4 linked regions of the Homo sapiens genome follow. The protein of the gene in region 1 purifies or fractionates together with the protein of each later gene. This does not show direct contact. Each region holds a gene or a part of one and is shown in the gene's direction. Other genes may lie near its edges.

Region 1 (4,393 bases):
GTAATTGCAAGTTTAGTAACTCAGTAAGAACATGCCTGCGACTCCCTTTCTGGATGGAACCTGGGCTGTGGCTCTCTGTCGTTTGTGGTGCTGTGATGGTGTCTACTGTTAGAATAGCTTTTCTGGAGGTGGGTGGCAACTCCACGCGGGAGTCATTGGCTGGGCTTGAGCCCTCAGCCTGTGATATGTGGATGCAGCTGTCCAGCCACTGCCCTTTAACATGCCCAGCACACATGGGAGGCCTGTGGCCCTGTGTCCAGTGGCCCACAGGACACGCCTCCACCATATGCTCATCCTTCCTGCCTGAAATTGCTGCTGCCCATCGCATGAGCCCACACAGTAGCACCCCCGTCCTTAGGATGAGAGTCAGAGCCTTTGGAAAGGCTGCATCCCCAGGGCTAGAGCTCAGATGACCTTATTTCTAGAGGGACAGGCTGTTCTGTTGGAAGAGTCTCTGGCCCAGTCATGCACATCTGTAGCCCCAGCCATCCTTGTGCCTTCACCTCTGATGTGTTTCACAAGCACGTAGTTCAACCCAGATAGGGACCACAGAGATTCTGGGGCCAGCCAGGGGCAGTCAAATTGGCACCTACTGGCTCTGACTTTTTGTATGAAGCATGCCTCAGTTTCCTCATTTTGATCTAGATATAAAATTAAAATTGTCCATTTCCTATATAAATACCAGCAAGATCACTCTGAGATACATAAACTCGCATTTCCTTCTGTTTTAGTAAGGAGTGCCAGACTTATCTTTGATGGGAATACAGTATGAACCCTGCTTGATGTAAAATGGAAATAGCACACAGGCAGATGGCCCTGGGTTTGGACTTTGATCTTGCCATCATTCCCCAGTAAAACCTGGGGAGTTCTGCGTTGAGTGGACGGACTTATTCCTGTGAAGCGGCATAATTTGTCTCCATTGAAAAATGGCATTCACTCTTACAGATGGTGTTCACTGCAAGCCCCAGAAGCATATGGCATGTGTTCACTAAGAGGCCTTTAATCCTGGGGAGTAAGGGGCGAAGGCCCTTAGACAACCATGGCTGCTGTACTGCCGCCCAGGGTGGGTGGCCAGTGAGGACTGGCCTTAGCCCAGTGGACCTGTGGCTTCTCTGAGGCCCTTGAGTAACTGACCACATTTGGAGGTTTTGCTGGAAATGCCTGACCTCTCAGTCTGGCTCTGCTGTGTAGTCCATAGCCCAGCCAGATGAGCTTGCAGCCTCATAGGAGGTCAGCACCTTGCAAAGATGCAGTCACCATAGATGTCCACGTAGCAGAGACTGACTTAGGATCTGAGATAAAGCATCGGATTGCAGGAATAACTGTCCAAATTAGTTCTTCCTCCTCAACTCATAGGAGTAGCTGTGGACAGAGGAACCAACATCTGCCACCTCTGGCATTTTCTTTCTTTTTTTTTCTTTTTGAGACGGAGTTTCGCTTTTGTCCCCCAAGCTGGAGTACAATGACAGGATCTCGGCTCACTGCAAGCTCTGCCTCCCGGGTTCAAGCGATTCTCCTGCCTCAGCCTCCCAAGTAGCTGGGATTACAGGCACCCACCACCTCACCCAGCTAATTTTTGTATTTTCAGTAGAGACGGGGTTTCACCATGTTGGCCAGGCTACTCTCAAACTCCTGACCTCAGGTGATCTGCCCACCTCGGCTTCCCAAAGTGCTGGAATTACAGGCCTGAGCCACCCCACCCGGCCTATTTTCTTAAAGGGGAACAAATGATCTTGACAACATATTATTCCATAAAACCAGTTTAGGGCACAGGCCAGTTCCTGATTAGAACACAGGACCTGTGGGAGGGACTATCAGAGATGCAAAAATTACTTCAAGATGAGTTTATTGTTTTCATTTGTATTGCAAAAGTTAGAAGTCATTTTACAAATTAAAAAAACATTTTTTTCTTGGTAGTCTTTAAAAATTAGGGGATTGAAAGGATCCAGGATGGGCTTTGTGTGTGTGTCTCAGATTCTCATTTATTAGTGAGCACACCTGTGTATATATATAAATCACAAGGAGATCATCAAGGGAAAACATTTTGCATGTGTAAAGCTTCATGAAGTTCTCTTTAAAAAATACCAAAGCTTGTTTATTTCTGATAATTAACCTAAGCCCTTATGAAAATAAACAAAATGAAGGGATTATGACAGGTATTACCAAAAACACCAAAAGGAACAAAGGGGCCTGCGTTAAAACCTAATTGCTAATGCTTCACAACTAGGAGAGCATGCCGTCTTGATGTTTAAAAAACCCAGGGTCTCCACCCTTCCTTTGATTTGTGCAATTCTGTCTTCCACAGTTCCGGAGCCTTCAGTGAGGGGTAGCTACATGCCCCATGCCTGCCCTTTCTTTCCTTCTTTGCTCACTTTACTATGGGTGTATTTTAATCTTGTATAAAAATATGCATGAATGAGTCATGCACATGTATACGTTATGTATTTGACAAGTGGTGGTGAAACAAAATCAAAACAGATTTGATTTGTGTTTTTGAAATGTCAGTACATTTTGTGCCACTAACACTGTGATGTATAAAAGAGCTGTTTGAATGCCTTTTAATGTTGTGTTTTGTACTCTGGAATCATATGGAAAAAGTTTGATTTGTAATTTCAATACATATTTTAAATGTATTGTGTCTTACGTAGTTTGTCCCCCCCTTTAGCAGGGATTCCTTTTTAAAGCTATTTTGGCTGGAATACAGGTGACTTTTGTAAACCCCGCGTGGCTCCGTCTTTTGTAGATGCTTATCTGACTACTGGCCTGAAGATGGAAAATATTCTATCTTCAGTCTTCAATATTTAATCTATTGAAGATTGAAAATATTCAATGTGGGAACTGGGGGTGGAGGGAGAAAGGGTGAGGCAGGGGAGGGATCTTATATCACTGGGAAAACAGCTCTTGTATCCTGAGATTTTCTGTTTTAGGAATGTTCTCAACTCCTAGATGCCAAAATTACTTGGTTTGTTGGGTGTATCAACCCGTCCAGCCATTCCTGGCTCCCTCTTGTGGTGCCCAACCGGTACTGCAGCATCAGGAAGCATCTCATCCCCACTCAGGGCGCTCTGCTTCCATCCGCAAAGACAAGTTCCTTACAGACCTGTCACATTTTATGAGTTGCAGCATGAAAATCAGGAGGCATCCTTTATCTGCTGGGGGTGGGGAGAAAGTGGAATAAATATGGATCCTTCTCATTTCGTAGGAGAGATAATAATGAGCTGAAGATGTGGTGGTTCACCTTGATTTTCATTCACCTCACTCCAGCTTGGAGGAGAATCTATACCTCATGCGTTCATATGATGCTCAAGTCTGGAATAGGCAACTGGTTCCTTGTCCTGTGTTTAAGTTTTAAATCCATTCTTTATATCTACAGGTGCACATTAAGGGAGTGGATTTTGTTAACTGGTGATTCATAGTGGGCACTGAAGACTCAATATATCTGCCCTCAAGGAGCTCTTAGTCTCAAGGGGTTGACAGATAAGTCAGTCAATTATCATAAGAAGGTGGAATAAGTTCAATGGTAGACGCACGCTCAGCAGGCTTTGCGGGCACAGCACAGCCCTTCGGCCAGGCCGGAAGGTCAGGGAAGGCTGTCCAGAGGACGCCATGTATGAGCTCGCTCTTGTAGACAAGTAGGAACTAGCCAAGCAAAACTGAGAAGTGTGTTCAAAGGAAGGGCCCAGTTCAACAAGCGCACAGAGTTTGGTCCAACTGGCGTGTCGGGGTTGGAGAGTTACTCAAATGTCTGACCTGGTGGGGGCACAGTGTGCCGAACTCAGGAACTGGACCTTCATGATAAAGGCTGTGTGGGAGGAGTGAGTTAGGGTCCTAGGGCTGCTGTCACAAAGGACCACACACCAGGGGCTACAACAACAGAGCTTTACTGTCTTCCAGGTCTGGAGGTTGGAAACTGAAGGTTCAGGTATCTGCAGGGCTGGAATCTTCTGAGAGCGGTAAGGAGGATGCCCGTGTTGCTCTGCAACTTCCTGGTACTGCTGGCAGTCCTGGGTGTTCCTTGGCTGGTAGATGCACCCCCAGTCTCTGCCTGCAGGTTCCCACGGCGTTCTCCCTGTGTGCACGCCTGTGGACACAGCTCCTTCATCTAAGGGCAAAGTCATATTGGATTAGAGCCTACCCTGATGACCTCATCTTCACTCGATCATCTGCAAAGACCCTATTTACAAATAAGGTCAAGTTCACAGGTTCTGGGGGTTAGGCTTCAACACTTTTTGTGGGAAACACAACTCACCTCCATAGGAGGGAGCACGGACTCTGAGTGGGCTGTCTGGCCCCAGGGAGGTCAACCAGAGAAGGTGGACGGGTACAGCAGGTGGCGGGGCTCCGTTGCCGGTGGTGCTGCCTCAGGTGCAGTCCAGAAGCAGTTCTTCCCTAC
Region 2 (5,170 bases), on another chromosome or scaffold:
GTAACCAAACCAAGTCTTGTAATTTGTTAGAAGGGGGTGTGGTAATCCGACATCGACTTCTGGGTTGCTTGAACCGTGCATTAATGACTGTGCTTTGCTTTTGAAAGTTAGACATGACGCATTTTTGAGGTTACTCCTGCCATGGAAGACTATCGGGTTGTTTCTATAGAGCGTAGTAAAAAGTAACAAGCGTCAACAAATATTTTAAAGCTATTTTTAAGTGAAAGAAAAGTGAAAAAGAAATGTCAGTCTGTGTATATTTCGCCTGGAATATAACCTTCTGAAGTTGCTTGCTCAATTCAACAAGTATTGATTAACTTACACGACAAAACATCTAACAAATAATCTCGGGTAAATAGAGCACTTTGAAAAAATTATTTGGAGCCGATTATCTGTTGCACAGATAAGTCCTCTGTGTCTGTCCCACCCACACCTTCCCCTCCCACCCCCCAACACCCCCTCCCGCCGCCCTCCCCTTCTCTCTCAAGTTTCTCAACTAGATTCATAAATCTTAGTGTTGCAAGACGAAGAACTCAAGACCTGCCTTCTAGGCATTTTACTTAATTACTTGGGGCGTGTAGTAGGAAGAAAAGTTACTAATAGAAAAGACTAGTACCTAGAATTAATAACCAACAAAAATCAGGAATGACTCTTTTTCTGCAGTTGATCCAAATTGTTTCTGGTAACATTGCCTGTATTTACAGAAAATACGTGGGTCTGGGAACACTGAACAAGTGCAGATTTCTTACTCCGGCTGGGTGGCCAAACTGGATGTGGTCCAATCTCTTAGAAAATCTGTCCTGTCCTTCACTGGGAAACAGACTGAAGGTTTAACGTTATTTTAGGATATGCAATGTATGTTTCTATTTATCCCTTGAAAATGAATAACCTCATATTGACCCATTATATTGACCTCCATTGATTTAGGAAATGGATATATTTTTTCTGCATTTAAAGGTATGCACTTAATGTAGCTTACTTAAGAGACCTTAAGTGCTTTAGCCAATACAATGTGCTAATTCCACTTTCTTTAGTATTTTAAATTAAAGTACTATAGTGAACTTTCCCAGTAACCTGATAGAACAACTTCAGGGATTTTTTTTTTTTAAGATGATAAATTCTGGGGAAATAAATCAAAGCTATTGAGACCAAACTAAATTCATTTTATGTAGGCATAAATTCCCAAACAATAGTATCATAAAAGCATTTTCCCCCAGAAAGTACCAAAGTACTGAAGGTGCTGTTTGACAGGCATTTTTTCCCTAAAGGATCCTCAGGAGATTTGTTATTCTATCAGCTTACTCTCTGGAGGCTGAGAGTCTTTTGAAGGGTGTTTCATAAGATTTCTGTTATATCCATTTGTGTTATAGACATGAATTGGGAGTGAAAAACTGTGCCGTTATTTCAGTGGAGGTGTAAACTCTTTTGAGCCCAAATGCCCTAAGTTTGGATTTTCAGCTGAACTTATGTTTCCATAAAGACAATGGGAAATAAGCGTAACCTAGAAATCTGAGTTGATATATTATCAAACCAAATTGATGCAAATATCAAATAACTATATTTTTATAGATTTTCATAGTCCCTTGCTTTTCCGTAGGCCCACATGTGAATATTCTGTACTTACTATGACTTCCAATTAAGCATACATTTTCTATTTAAGGCAAACTTTTAAAATTATGAAATATTACCGAAAATGGTGATTTTTATAATTAAGTCTATAATATTGTATTAAATCAATACTTGCCCCCACCTCCCAAAACTGATGCTACTGGAGAATTGCTAACGCTCTTATCTTTTGTAATTCGTTGTAACTACTTGGAAAAAGTAATACGCATGGGGAAACAAGTAGTAAAAACAAACACAGGCAAAAAAAAAAAAAATGACTTCTTCCCACCCAGACTCCCCTTGCACTGTCCTTCCCAGGAGTTGCTCACTGTTACAGTAGTTTCTAGTGAATTTAAGTGTATTGTAAGGTGTTTGATTTTACTGGAATAAATGCATACCATTCAATTTAAAATAAAACATTTAAGTGTATCCATCTGGTTGTAACTCTTTTATTCTAGGCATTACAAAGTGGTTTTTTTTCCCACTTAAAACACTTTCACTCAAGCCCTCTTGCTACATGGCTAGGAATGCATAGATGCTGCAATCCTGTGCTAGGATAACAGGTGTTACAAGGAGTGATGACAAGCAGGCAGGTTTAGGGAGATGGCCAAACATCCTTATGTACGAATGGATTAATCATTTGGAAACTTGCTTTTTTAATCAGTATAGACTGGGGGTGGGTAAAAGTGATTATATGAGTCAAGGTTAGTGTGCAACCCATGTTTTATATTCTTGACAAACCCAGCAGGTAGGGTCTCTGGAAATTATCTAGTTCTTACTTCAGTGGACAAAATGATGACGATTTCTCTGTTTAGGTGTGATTTCATTTTGGATTCAGCTTTGTATACTCACTGAGGTATGACTTTTTGTAATACTGTAATATTTCTGTTATGGTTATACAAACAGCATAATGTTTTTCTTTCTCTTTGTGATTGCTTGAATAGGATATCAAGCCAATGAGAGATCAAATTGTCAGAGTGAAGAGATATGAAAAAGTCCCACTAATCCTAGTAGGAAATAAAGTGGATCTGGAACCAGAAAGAGAGGTTATGTCTTCAGAAGGCAGAGCTCTGGCTCAAGAATGGGGCTGTCCTTTCATGGAGACATCGGCAAAAAGTAAATCAATGGTGGATGAACTTTTTGCTGAGATCGTCAGGCAAATGAACTATTCATCCCTGCCGGAGAAGCAAGATCAGTGTTGTACAACTTGTGTCGTCCAGTAAAGAAGATAACCTCAATCATGGCCATACCGAGCAGGTTAGTTTTTGATGGAACTGTATGAATCAGGTAGTGTTTTGTTTTTTGATCAAGTAAAACAAAAAGCTGGTTAGTGTTAATACATATGGCACTGCCTTAAATTTCTTTATTTTTAAAATAACATTTTCCATCACACAAAATAGTCAACATTCAATGAAGAAAATTTTTTTAAATGCAGATAAGCAAAGCGGAGATAAGAAATTGCTTATATTCCCATCACCAGGATTTTAAGTGAGTTATTGTTCTTCCTTCTCTGCTTTATTGGTAATATTTCTTTGGGTTGAGTTAAACCATAATACACTTTTTCCCTGTTCTTCTGATTTAGCATCCAGAATGCACAGGAGAGCACTGAGTAATAATTTCAGAAGTTTTGTGGTATTTTCTGTACTTTTATGTTTTTATGTCCTGAGCAAGCAAATTGCTGCAATTAAAATCACCAATTTACTAATCACCAAGTGCTTGATTAACAGTACAATTATTTAAGCAAATTCATCTGTACCTAACACTTGAGGGACTTAAGTGACCTCTGATAATAACAAATTATAGTGCCACAGTGTACCCTGACTTCATTATAAATATACGGTCCAAAAGATAATCTAGTTGAATTATCTGTGATGTGTTAGAAGGAACAGTTTCATGCATAAAAAAATTTATTCAATTTAATAAATTATGAGATTAATAGGAACAGTAACAAACCTTCAGGCCTTTCACTGAGTTAAATGATAACTTACAAGTTTTTTTTAATGAATGAGTTTTTTTTTAAAACTCATACTTTTTTAAAAGTAAGATTATGTAAAACTTACGAAGCATTTAAAACAAGATTATTTATGCCATGATCTTTTAGTCTAGATTGTAATTGAGCAAATAGTCTCACTTAGACAGTAACACTTAGATAATAAGATAAAACAACCAATATTGTGAATGACTGAGAAACCGCAGCAAATGCCAGACTAGCCTGACAGTATCAGGAATGAAATTGATCTTCCTGAGCCAAGGCTGACCTCGAGTCTAGGAGGCAGTGTTGCAAATGGCAACAGGCATTTCAGATTGGAGCAATGATTCCTAATCAAGGGTCTGGCTTTGTGTATGCTCCCCGGAGAAAAGACTAACGGTCCCTAATTTATCTTTTCAGACAAGGTCTCCTGTCAGATAGTGTCATCTTTGAAAATGAAGGATGACAACAATGCTTTATTTAAAATGCTTTCACTCATCAGCCTTTAGCATACCAGAATATGATGAAAACTCATTTATTTTCTTATGTCTAGCTACATCTATTATTTTATAAAGTCACTTTTCAGACCATAGTCCAGCTTGTGTTTGGTTGATAGCATTGTACTTGCAGTATAGTCTTTTGAGGAGGGGAGAGGCTTATGGATCAAGTCCCATATTCTTGCTGCTGTAATCTCTCTCCTTAAATTGTAAGCCAGCTTCACAATTGAACAAGTTCTGTGTGGTGATTGTGTCTTTACTGTTTTGCTCTATTTTTCTACCTGACACTTACTGGGCAGATAACGTAAGTGTCTATACACATTTTGTGTTAGTTTTATCATCTTTTTAAAAATTAACCAACTCCCACGAAATGTTCCCAGTTTTCCTTCCATCATTAGTGTAGACAGCTATAGGAGGTTAACTGAATAAAATTGGTCTCATACATGTAGAGAGCCAGCTCTCTCAGCCAAATTGGCAGGTGAATAATTTCTAAAGCTATTTTTGAACCTCTTCTTCTGAATCATTTCTGAGTTTATTTCATTTGGTAACTTTTTGTGATCTGAATTATTTTTAACCTATTTAGTTACCTACAGGAATGAGTACATAGATTTTTTTTAGTATCTCAAGCCAACTATATTTGTATTTTTTGTTAATTAACATACTAAAAATGGAAATTATTAATACCTATATTCATTTTTATAGTAGTGGGTCAAGTTCTCTGTGTAGGTTTTTGTTTGTTTTTGTAAGCAGAATATATAAATGAAGATATTAGCCTTGAAATAAAATATCCAATAAACTGAATTTCTAAAAATATTAAGGGGAACTCCCTGACCAAGATCTTTTAGAACAAAGTGCACTATATGCAGGTTTTTTTTTTTTCTGACATCAAATAAAATTGAACTGATTCCCATATATGGGAATCTCTAATCTGAGGCTAGTAAAATTTGTGGTTGTCCTTGCTCACCATTTACCTAAGAAGAGAAGAAAATAGATGGTGGATTTTGAATCCTATAGCTTGAGTCATGGAGCTTTGAAATCTGTCAGACCCAGATCTAAATTGAATATCAAACTTTGACAGGTAAAGTTGATTTGAGAAATG
Region 3 (5,170 bases), on another chromosome or scaffold:
CTGGGTGTCAAAGGCCCAGGTGCATGTGGGAGTCCGGATGCACTTCTGTGAAGGGGCGTTGGGCTGTCTGGGGGGTCCATGTGACCTCTCCTCTGACCCTCATCTCTCTCTCCGCTTCCACCTCCCGTGCAGACAAGCGAGTCTCCAACACGCCCCTGAGGACGGTTGACGGCTCCCCCATGATGAAGGCAGGTGGGTTGGCCCCCAGGCTCTGGGCCCCAGATCCAGCCGCTGTCAGGGACCAAGTCTCGGTCCGGGGGGCCGGGTGGGGCGGGGGCGACACCGACCTGCTCTCCGCAGCGTCTGACGGGGCCGTGGTTATGGGGGTGGCAGCTGGACCGAGGCCGAGGCTCCGAGCCTGGGGTGGGGGCCCCCTCTGCTTTGTTGCCCTGGTCCCACGCCGGCCCACGCTTCCCCGAGAAGACGGGCCCCACGCATGGCGGCTCTAACCGACGCGACCTCACGGCTTTCATTCCACCCTAATCTCACGGCTCCCTCCTGGGGCCCGCTGGGGGTGGCGCTCACGCCTGAACATGCTCGCTGCAAATCTTACCTGCTCCAGTCCTCGGGCAGTAGGACTGGCTGCCCCGGGAGAAAGTGGGTGCCCCGTCCCTGGAGGCAACCAAGCCAGGTCCCCAGCACCGCTGCGCTTCCGAGAAGCAGGGGAAGGTGGGGGTTGACGCTGAGTGCCACACGGTGCTCAAGTCAGGCTCGAACCCCTGGTCTGCCGCCTTGAATTTCTCCGCCTGCCAGAGGGGTGGGACCTCAGTACGCCATCCTGGGGCCCGGCACAGGACAGGAGCCCAATAATGAGAAATCGTCGCAGTGGGCAAAACCACTGCTATGTGAGTGAGCTGGAACAGCACAGAAAGAAGGCAGAGGGCCGGGCGTGGTGGCTCACACCTGTAACCCACCCCAGCACTTTGGGAGGCCGAGGCGGGCAGATCGCCTGAGGTCAGGAGTTCGAAACCAGCCTGGCCAACATGGCGAAACCCCATCTCTACTAAAATACAAAAATTAGCCGGGCATGGTGGTGCACGCCTGTAATCCCAGCTACTCGGGACGCTGAGGCAGGAGAATCGCTTGAACCTGGGAGGCGGAGTTTGTAGTGAGCCAAGGTCGTGCCACTGCACTCCAGCCTGGGCGACAAGAGCAAGACTCCGTCTCAGAAAAGGCAGCAAGGCAGGGAGGTGAAGAAGGACTCTGGGGTGGCTGCCCAGGACGGGACAGGGCTGGAAGGAAGGAGAGCCACCCGGAGGCCCAGGTCTCCAGCACGGTCCAGGGTGGGGGTTGCCCCAGGATGCAGCAGACAGAGGCATTTGTCAGAGCAGGTGGTGCCTGTGGGCCTCTGTGCCAGTGAGACCAGCCCTGGCAGACACCGAGGCCCAGGTCCCCCGCTGATCCCCGTGGCCACTGACTTTGTGCAGTGCACAACCTGCTCAACAGTGTGGGCAGCTCTGGACTAGCTGTCTGGGGTGGAGGGCTGAGGCTGTGCAGAGCTATAGAGTTGAAAAACAGTCGTCCCTTCACCCAGAATGCCTTTCAAGCGCCTGCTGCATGCCAGGCATTGGGGGAGAGGGTATTCTAATGAGGGCCACAACCTCTACTACGGTAGAAAAGTGAGGCCAAGGACGTTGAGCTGGAGGAAGGAGAATTTGAACCAGAGGGCTCAGGGGAGGGGAGCGTTCAACGTAAGAGGTGACGTCTGAGCAAAGACCCAGAGGTGCTGAGGGAGCAAGGCACGCAGCTATCTGGAGGAAGGTGTCCAAGGCACGCAGCTATCTGGGGAAAGGTGTTCCAGGCAGAGGGCACGGCCAGTGCAAAGGCCCCGGGGCAGGACTGCGCCTGGGGTGTTGGAGGAACGGCCAGGAGATCCGTGTGGCTGGAGCAGCGTGAGGAGGGGGAGAGGGCGGAGGAGAGATGATGGAGAGATTGTTGAGGGCCCTGTGGCAGGGGCGGGAGGGGACGTGGGCTTTTCCCGGGAGGGAGGCAGGAACCATGGGGGGCTGCAGGCAAAGCCGGGACTGCCCCGACTCCGTGCTCACCCACGCCCTCTGGTGACTGCAGGGAGAACAGACCGTGGACGGTGCCAGGTGGAGGGGACAGGGCTGCTGGGGGAGGAGGCTGGGATGGGCCGTGGAGGGGCGAGCAGTGGGCGGTTCCTTATGTTCTGAAGGTGGAGCCCCCAGGGTTTGAGGAGAAACGAGGTGTCAGGGAGGACTGGCCAGGCACGGTGGCTCACGCCTGTAATCCCAGCACCTTTGGAGGCCAAGGCGGGCAGATCATTTGAGGTCAGGAGTTCAAGACCAGCCTGAGCAACATGGTGAAACCCCGTCTCTACTAAAAAATAGAAAAATTAGCCAGGCGTGGTGGCTCACCCCTGTAATCCCAGCACTTTGGGAGGCCGAGGGGGGCAGATCATGAGGTCAGGAGATCGAGACCATCTTGGCTAACACGGTGAAACCCTGTCTCTAGTAAAAATACAAAAAATTAGCTGGGCATGGTGGCAGGTGCCTGTAATCCCAGCTGCTCGGGAGCCTTAGGCAGGAGAATCGGTTGAACCTGGGAGGCAGAGATTGCAGTGATCTGAGATCACGCCACTGCACTCCAGCCTGGGCAACAAGAGCAAAACTTTGTCTCAAAAAAAAAAAGAGGGAGGACTGAGCTGCCCCCAACGGGTGGGAAGAGCCAGGGTGGGGGCAGGTGTAGGGGGCAGATTGGGAGTAGTGTTATGGACGTGTGAGAGTGGGGCCCCTGTGGATAGGGGCTGAGTCCAGGTCAAGGTCCAGGTGGGGATGGGTGTGCGGGAGATTAGAGCCGAGTGCCTGGGCGAGGTCCCCGGCGCAGAGCAGAGTCCAGGGCCGCAGCCGGGCCTAAGCGTCGAGGTTGGGTGGGAGGAGGGAAACGAGGTGGCTATGGGGGCCGAGGGGCCAGGCGATGGCAGGGCTGCCCACGATGGGGACCGATGGCCCCTCAGAAGTGGTGAGGACATGCAGCTATCTGGGGGGTGTGCCAGGCATTGGGAACAGCCTGTGCAAAGGCCCTGAGGCTGGGCCGCACCTGGGGTGCAGTGTCATGGGTCAGGCCAGTCCTGGCAGCCCTGTTCAGCTCCCGCTGCGGGGCGGGGTCTCAGGGAGGTGCCTGGTGATCCCCAGTGCTCGTCATCTTCAAGCAGGCCTGGGGGTGGCGGGCAGCCACCAGTCGCTGTTAGGATGCAGGCTCTGTGTGGTTTCTGCAGGAATGATTTTTACAGAGTGGGGCGAGGTGCTGGCTGTGGAGTTAGGGCCCTGATGAGTAGCAAGTTCGACTATCTCAGGAGGGTTCCTTCATTCTGAGTCTAAATAGATGACGGCGTGTCCAACCGTTGGCTGGAAGGAGGCGTCAAGTCCTGGGAGCTTGGATGGTCGGGGCGGGGGCTGTGGGTCTGCAGACTGAGCCCCAGTCTCCGCCGTGACCCCGGGCAAGGCAGGATCTCTCTGGGATTCACCTGCTCCTCTGAGAAACCAGGAATGGTGGGGCTCGAGGGCTCACGTTTATAATCCCAGGGCTTTGGGAGGCTGAGGTGGGAGGATTGCTTGAGCCCAGGAGTTTGAGACCAGCCTGGGCAACATAGTGAGACCCCCATTTCCAAAAAAGATAAATAAATTAGCCGGGTGTGGTGGCGCACACCTGTGGTCCCAGCTACTTGGGAGGCTGAGGTGGGAGAATGGGGTGAGCCAGGAAGGTCATGACTGCAGTGAGCTGTGATCGTGCCGCTCCACTCCAGCCTGGCCAACAGAGGGAGACCCTGTATCTATTTAAATAATAGGCTGGGCGCGGTGGCTCACGCCTGTAATCCCAGCACTTTGGGAGGCCAAGGCAGGTGGATCACCTGAGGTCAGGAGTTTGAGACCAGCCTGACCAACATAGAGAAACCCCGTCTCTACTAAAAATACAAAAATTAGCTGGGCGTGGTGGCGGGCGCCTGTAGTCCCAGCTACGTGGAAGGCTGAGGCAGGAGAATCGCTAGAACCGGGAGGTGAGTCCAGATCACACCACTGTGCTCCAGCCGGGGCGACAGAGCAAGGCGGCTCCATCTCAAAAAAATTAAAAAGATCCGGGAACAATGAAGGCTTTCCAGATGGGCTGGGCTGGAACCTGAGCTTGACAGACAATAGTTTGGTGGCGAAACAGAGGACACAGTGCAGAGTACAGGGACGAGGACCATCTGGGCGGACAGCAGGATGGGCCTCAAATGCCAAGGAGAGGTGTTCAGACTGGTCGTCTCCAGGCACTGGGGAGCTATGGAGGGATGTAGAGTTGGGGAGGGCCGCGTCGAGAAGGTGCCCAGGCATCCCCGGCTCCGCCTGCCCCATCGCTGCTTGGCTCTGCGCTGCTGGCTCCCCCCTCCCTGGCTTGGCCGCAGCCCGGCGGGGGGGTGCGGGGGCGGGCAGGCCGTGGTGTAACCCCGTGACTCTCGTGCCAGCCATGTACTCGGTTGAGATCACTGTGGAGAAGGACAAGGTGACAGGGGAGACCAGGGTGCTGTCCAGCACCACGCTGCTCCCTCGGCAGCCGCTCCCTCTGGGCATCAAAGTCTACGAGGACGAGACCAAAGGTACGAGCACCCCGGCCCCTGCCCTCCCTCCACCTGGGCCAGAGCCCCGAACACGTGTGCTCCCAGCGTGTGGGTCTGGCGTCTGCCCCGGAATCAGGACCCCGATTCGATGTGAAGCAGATGACGCTGTTCAGGCCAGGGCCTCACCCCCTGTGGCCCACAGCTGGGCTCAGAGGTCGTTCAGCCCTGGGCTCACTGCCCAATCATTCATCCACTCCAGAAAGCTGCCTGAAAGCTGAGCCGGGCACCAGGTACCCAGCTGGGCTCTGGAGGGAAATCCGGAGGTAGATTCAGCTTCTGTCCTTGCCGGGTGGCAAACCGGGCCCTTCCATCTGGAGCTCCTAAATAATTCGTTTAAATAATTACTGCTAGCCCAAGGGCTCACGCCTTTAGTCCCAGCACTTTGGGAGGCCGAGGGAGGAGGATCGCTTGAGCCCAGAAGTTTGAGACCAGCCTGGGCAGCATAGCAAGGCTCCGTCTCTACCAAAAAAAAAAAAAAAAAAAAATTACCCTGGCATGGTGGTGCGTGCCTGTGGTCCCAGCTACTTGGGAGGCTGAGATGGGAGGATCACT
Region 4 (5,170 bases), on another chromosome or scaffold:
GAAACCCAGTCTTGGGGCCCAGCCCCTTGGGCCATCAGAGGCCAAGGCCTAGGCCTGTCACCCAGGTAGCCTCCCCCGCCTCGCTCTGCCCCTGCCATCACCACACCCCTTAGCCTAACAGAGAATAGATTTTATATCAAATCAGGTCAAGGGACTAGGGCAGGGAGTGGCTTAGAGGGGCCTGAGGAAGGAAAATCCTTTAGGGCCACACTAGGGAGACCCAGATGAGCGGGGAAGGAGGAAGAAAACACCCCCACAGTGAGTGGGAGTCCTTTGTCCCCCCTCCAGTCCCCCGCTCCTGGGCTGGGCTGCGGACTTGCAGGGAATCATTGAAGAGAGAGGAGCGCTAGAGCCCAGTGAGCACCCGCCATGCGTGAGGCACTGTGCTGAGCTTGCATCAGACCTGATCCTGCTTAATCCTCAGGCATCCCTGTGCGGGAGGTGCTGTCCTCATGTCACATTACAGACGGGAAGCTCAAGGCGGAGGGGTGAAATCACCGCCCAAGGCCACATGCCTGCCTGCTGCCAGAGCCTAGTTTTCCATGATGGCTCCCAGTGAATACTTTTTGTTGTTGCTGTTGTTGTTAGTTGTTTATGAGACAGGGTCTCATTCTGTCACCCAGGCTGGAGTGCAGTGGCATGATCATGGCTCACTGCAACCTCAAATTCCTGACCTCAAGTGATCCTCCCACCTCAGTCTCCCAAGTAGCTGGGACTCAGGAGACTGGGAGACTGGGTACCACCACATCCAGCTAATTTTGTTTCTGTTTTTTGTAGAGTTGGGGTCTCACTGTGTTGTCCAGGCTGGTCTTGAACTCCTGGGCTAAAAGAATCCTCCTGCCTTGGATTCCCAAAGTGCTGGGATTACAGGTGTAAGCCACCATTCTTGGCTAGCCTGATGAATACTAATGAACAATTTTGTCACTGTCCCAGGCGCTTTTCGCATATTATCTCATGTAATGCTCACACTAATATGAGGTAGGTGGTACCAGTAGCCTTCTCTTACAGATGAGGAAACTAAGACTCAGAGAGATTTGGTAACTTGCCTAGGGTTCAAAGCTGGGAAGTAGCTGAGAGAAAATTTGAACCCAGGCAGTGTGGCCCAGAGTCCGTGCTTGTCACACAGTGACTGATAGAGAAGCTGATACCTGCAGGGGGCCTCCTGGCCGCTCCTCTCCCATGGGGGCCCTGCCAGCCCCCAGGAGCGTCCTCACAGGGCTGCCAAATAAAATACAGAACACCCGGTTAAGTTTGGAATTCCGCTAAATGCGGAATATGGAATGTATTTATACTAAAAAATTATTCTTTATCTGAATTTCACATTTAACGGGTGTCCTGGATTTTCTCTGGCCACCCTGTGTCCCCACAGCCCCGTGTGTGCCTGTGCCCTGATGCTCCGCCCCTGCCCCTCATCCTCCCCATGGGCAGAGGCCTGAGTGGGCAGAATCCTGCCCCCTTGCCTCCCCAGCCTACACACACTACCAAGTGCCCCTGAGCGAGAGGGCTCGGCCCATGGCCTGCCTGGGATGTCTTCCGCAGGGTGAGTGGGACTGCTGTGGGTGACTTGGCAGGTGAGGGTCTTCAGAACAACCCCCAGCCCTGGCAGGTGCCTGGCCTGGGTGGTGGGTAAGCTGGGTGGCCCTCCAGTCTAAGCAGGGGCATGCCAGGTGGGACTAGGGGGCTGGCTCTGCCAGGCCCTGTGGTCCCCCTCACATCTTTCCCTGTCCCCTACCCTGACTTCCGCACCCAACCAGGTTTCATGCCTGTTCTGGCCCCAGAGAAAAGGGTGCTGCCACCCCCACTTGCTGTGTCCCACCCGGGGCCAAGGGAAGCACCGCCTGCCTTTCCTGACTTTGTTGATTCTCCAAGGAATGTTATGGACTCTGGCACCGAGCCCCCGCCAGGCTCCAGCCCTGGGTGTGGCAGCCAGCTGGGTCACGGGGGACATGCTTGGTGCCTGAGGTGTGGAGGCTGCCTGCTGGCTAAAGGATTAGGGTGGGAGGGTCTTTGGGACCCCTCGCCATTGTGTGTCCTCTCCTAGAGCCTCACAGCCCCGGCCACCTGGAAACGCTCTTTCTCTACTCCCTGCTCGGCCTTGGCCACAGCTGCTGGCTGTAGCAGTTCCCTGCATGACTCGCATTCCTGTGGAGCCCTGTGTGCACCTCCCGAGTGCGAGCCGCCTATTTCCCCCTGGCTGGCCCACCTTCCACCCTCTCCACCCATGAACCCTGTACGCACACACACACTCACACGCACACACTCACACACATTCACTCACACTCATACACACACACTGTCTCACGCACACACACACTCCCCACCTATGCATACACCCCACACACACCCTGCCCTGCCTGCATGCCACCCCTCCGGGACACGCCTGGACAGAACTCCCACCCTCCCTGCCAGCTGCCCTGGCGCCTGTCTCCACTGCACAGCCTCTATATCCATCCCTGCCTGGGGGCGACCTGCACTATCTTCAGCACACAGGGCTTGTCCTCTCTGAGCTCAGTGGTGCACCTGTGAAAAGGGTGGGATTTGGGGCCCCTTCCAGCTCTGACATGAGGTAGTTTCTGGTCCCTGGTCTTGGCTACCCTTACAGAACTGCTCAGGCCCCAGACCATCCACGCCCCAAACCGCCCGGGCTGCAGGTGGAAGTTGAGAAACTGGGCCTGCCCTTTCCTCAGCACGCCTGACCCCTCTCTGAGGCTGAGATAAGCGGGCAGCTTGGGAAGGTGTCTGAGCCCCAGCTGACAACACTGAATTGGGCGGGAGGTGCCGCTGTCCTGGTCTGGGGAAGGTACCCCCTGGAGGCCATGGGACTAAGGGGACAGATGGATCAGAACACGTGGGTGCCTCTTTCCACCCGGGGCACTAACTCACTTCCCCAGAGCCCTGCCTCAGTTTCCTTCTTTGTGATCATTTACTGAGCACCCACTATGGGCCAGGCCTAAACCAGGCTCCATGTGCTTGTGCCTGTTGTGGCCACACACAGCCCTTTGGGGTCAGACTCCCCCAACTTCCACCACATTTCAGCCCCACCGGGTGCCGACCTGGCTGTCTGCTTCTTTAACAGCATTTTTGAGATATTCATTCACATACCTTATAATTTATCCATTGAAAGTACACAGTGCGGAGCACTTTGGGAGGCAGAGGCTGTTGAATCACTTGAGGCCAGGAGTTTGAGACCAGCCTGGGCATCATAGTGTGACCCCAACTCTACAAAAAAATTTAAAAATTATTCAGGCCTGGTAGTGCAAGTCTGTAGTCCCAGCTCCTCGGGAGGCTGAGGTAGGTGGATTGTTTGAGCCCAAGAGTTTGAGGCTGCTGCAGTGAGCCATTATTGTGCCACTGCACCCCAGCCTGGCTACAGAGCAAGACCCTGTCTCAGAAAAAAAAAAAAAGTATACAATGGTTTCCAGCATATTATATCATTAAACTTTAAAAATTATGGTAAAATAGGCCGGGTGCTGTGGCTCACGCCTGTAATCCTAGCACTTTGGGAGGCCGAGGCGAGTGGATCACTTGAAGTCAGGAGTTCGAGACCAGCCTGGCCAACATGGTGAAACCCCATCTCTACTAAAAATACAACAATTAGCCGGAAATCACTTGAACCCGGGAGGTGGGGGTTGCAGTGAGCTGAGATCGTGCCACTGCACTCCAGCCTGGGCAACAGAACGAGATGCTGTCTCAAAAAAAAAAAAAAAAAAAAAAAATAGGCTGGGCGCAGTGGCTCATGCCTGTAATCCCAGCACTTTGGGAGGCTGAGGTGGGCGGATCATGAGGTCAGGATATCAAGACCATCCTGGCTAACACGGTGAAACCCCGTCTCTACTAAAAAATACAAAAAAAATTAGCCAGGTGTGGTGGCGGGCACCTGCAGTCCTAGCTACTCAGGAGGCTGAGGCAGGAGAATGGCGTGAACCCAGGAGGCGGAGCTTGCAGTGAGCCAAGTTCGTGCTACTGCACTCCAGCCTGGGCAACAGAGCGAGACTCCATCTCAAAAAAAAAAAAAAAATATGGTAAAATATATATAATGAAATTGGCCATTGCAACCATTTTTAAGTGGTTAATTCACTGGCATTAATTACATTCACGCTGTTGTGCAACTATTACTGTTGCCTATTTCCAAAACTTTTTCATCATCCAAACAGAAACTAACCATCAAGCAATAACTCTCCATTACCTCCCCATTCCAGCCCCTGGTACCCTCCCAGCTACTTTCTGTCTCTATGAACTTGCCGCTCTGGGTACCTCACATGGGTGGAATCACATAGTATTTGTCGTTTGGGGTCTGGCTTCTTTCACTTAGCATGATGTTTTCAAGGTTCATCCATGTTGTAGCGTGCATCAGATTTCACTCCTTTACATGGCTGAATACTATTCCATTGTATCGATAAACCATATTTTGCTTATGCACTCATCTGTCTCATATGTTTTTTGTTTGTTTTGTTTTGTTTTGTTTTTTGAGACGGAGTCTCGCCATGTCTCCCAGGCTGGAGTATAGTGGCACAATCTCAGCTCGCTGCAACCTCTGCCTTCCGGGTTCAAGCATTCTCCTGCCTTAGCCTCCCTAGTAGCTGAGATTACAGGCGTGGGCCACCATGCTCGGCTGTTTTCTATTTTTAGTAGAGACGGGGTTTCACCATGTTGGTCAGGCTGGTCTCGAACTCCTGACCTCAAATGATCTGCCTGCCTCGGCCTCCCAAAGTGCTGGGATTACAGGTGTGAGCCACCATGCCCAGCTAATGTTTTATGTTTTTAGTAGAGACAGGGTTTCACCATGTTGGTTAGGCTGGTCTCGAACTCCTTGCCTCAAATGATCCACATGCCTCAGCCTCCCAAAGTGCTGGGATTGCAGGTGTGAGCCACCATGCCCGGCTGATGTTTTATATTTTAAACAGAAACAGGGTTTCACCATGTTGGTCAGGCTGGTCTTGAACTCCTGACCTCAAATGATCTGCCTGCTTCGGCCTTCCAAAGTACTGGGATTACAGGTGTGAGCCACCATGCCCAGCTAATGTTTTTTATTTTTTGTAGAGACAGGGTTTCACCATATTGGTCAGGCTGGTCTTGAACTCCTGACCTCAAATGACCCGCCTGCCTTGGCCTCCCAAAGTGCTGGGATTACAGGCTCATCTGTTGATGAGCACTCGGGTTGTTTCCACCT

What was found. The genes of interacting proteins can lie anywhere in the genome.
Region 2: the proteins of RNF144A (region 1) and RAP2C purify together in Homo sapiens (affinity purification with mass spectrometry, with the first as the bait; one large-scale study listed by BioGRID). This does not show direct contact.
Region 3: the proteins of RNF144A (region 1) and PALM purify together in Homo sapiens (affinity purification with mass spectrometry, with the first as the bait; one large-scale study listed by BioGRID). This does not show direct contact.
Region 4: the proteins of RNF144A (region 1) and PLCD3 purify together in Homo sapiens (affinity purification with mass spectrometry, with the first as the bait; one large-scale study listed by BioGRID). This does not show direct contact.

The regions. Positions count from the first base shown.
Region 1 is NC_000002.12:7,041,462-7,045,854, forward strand, and holds the end of RNF144A (E3 ubiquitin-protein ligase RNF144A), read left to right. Parts: 3' UTR 1-2,718; downstream 2,719-4,393. UniProt on the Homo sapiens protein: E3 ubiquitin-protein ligase which accepts ubiquitin from E2 ubiquitin-conjugating enzymes UBE2L3 and UBE2L6 in the form of a thioester and then directly transfers the ubiquitin to targeted substrates.
Region 2 is NC_000023.11:132,211,826-132,216,995, reverse strand, and holds part of RAP2C (ras-related protein Rap-2c isoform 1 precursor), read left to right. Parts: intron 1-2,420; exon of another isoform or gene 2,421-2,461; intron 2,462-2,549; coding exon 2,550-2,828; 3' UTR 2,829-2,862; intron 2,863-3,040; exon of another isoform or gene 3,041-3,093; intron 3,094-5,170. UniProt on the Homo sapiens protein: Small GTP-binding protein which cycles between a GDP-bound inactive and a GTP-bound active form. May play a role in cytoskeletal rearrangements and regulate cell spreading through activation of the effector TNIK.
Region 3 is NC_000019.10:735,887-741,056, forward strand, and holds part of PALM (paralemmin-1), read left to right. Parts: intron 1-132; coding exon 133-192; intron 193-4,465; coding exon 4,466-4,597; intron 4,598-5,170. UniProt on the Homo sapiens protein: Involved in plasma membrane dynamics and cell process formation. Isoform 1 and isoform 2 are necessary for axonal and dendritic filopodia induction, for dendritic spine maturation and synapse formation in a palmitoylation-dependent manner.
Region 4 is NC_000017.11:45,124,894-45,130,063, reverse strand, and holds part of PLCD3 (1-phosphatidylinositol 4,5-bisphosphate phosphodiesterase delta-3), read left to right. Parts: intron 1-5,170. UniProt on the Homo sapiens protein: Hydrolyzes the phosphatidylinositol 4,5-bisphosphate (PIP2) to generate 2 second messenger molecules diacylglycerol (DAG) and inositol 1,4,5-trisphosphate (IP3).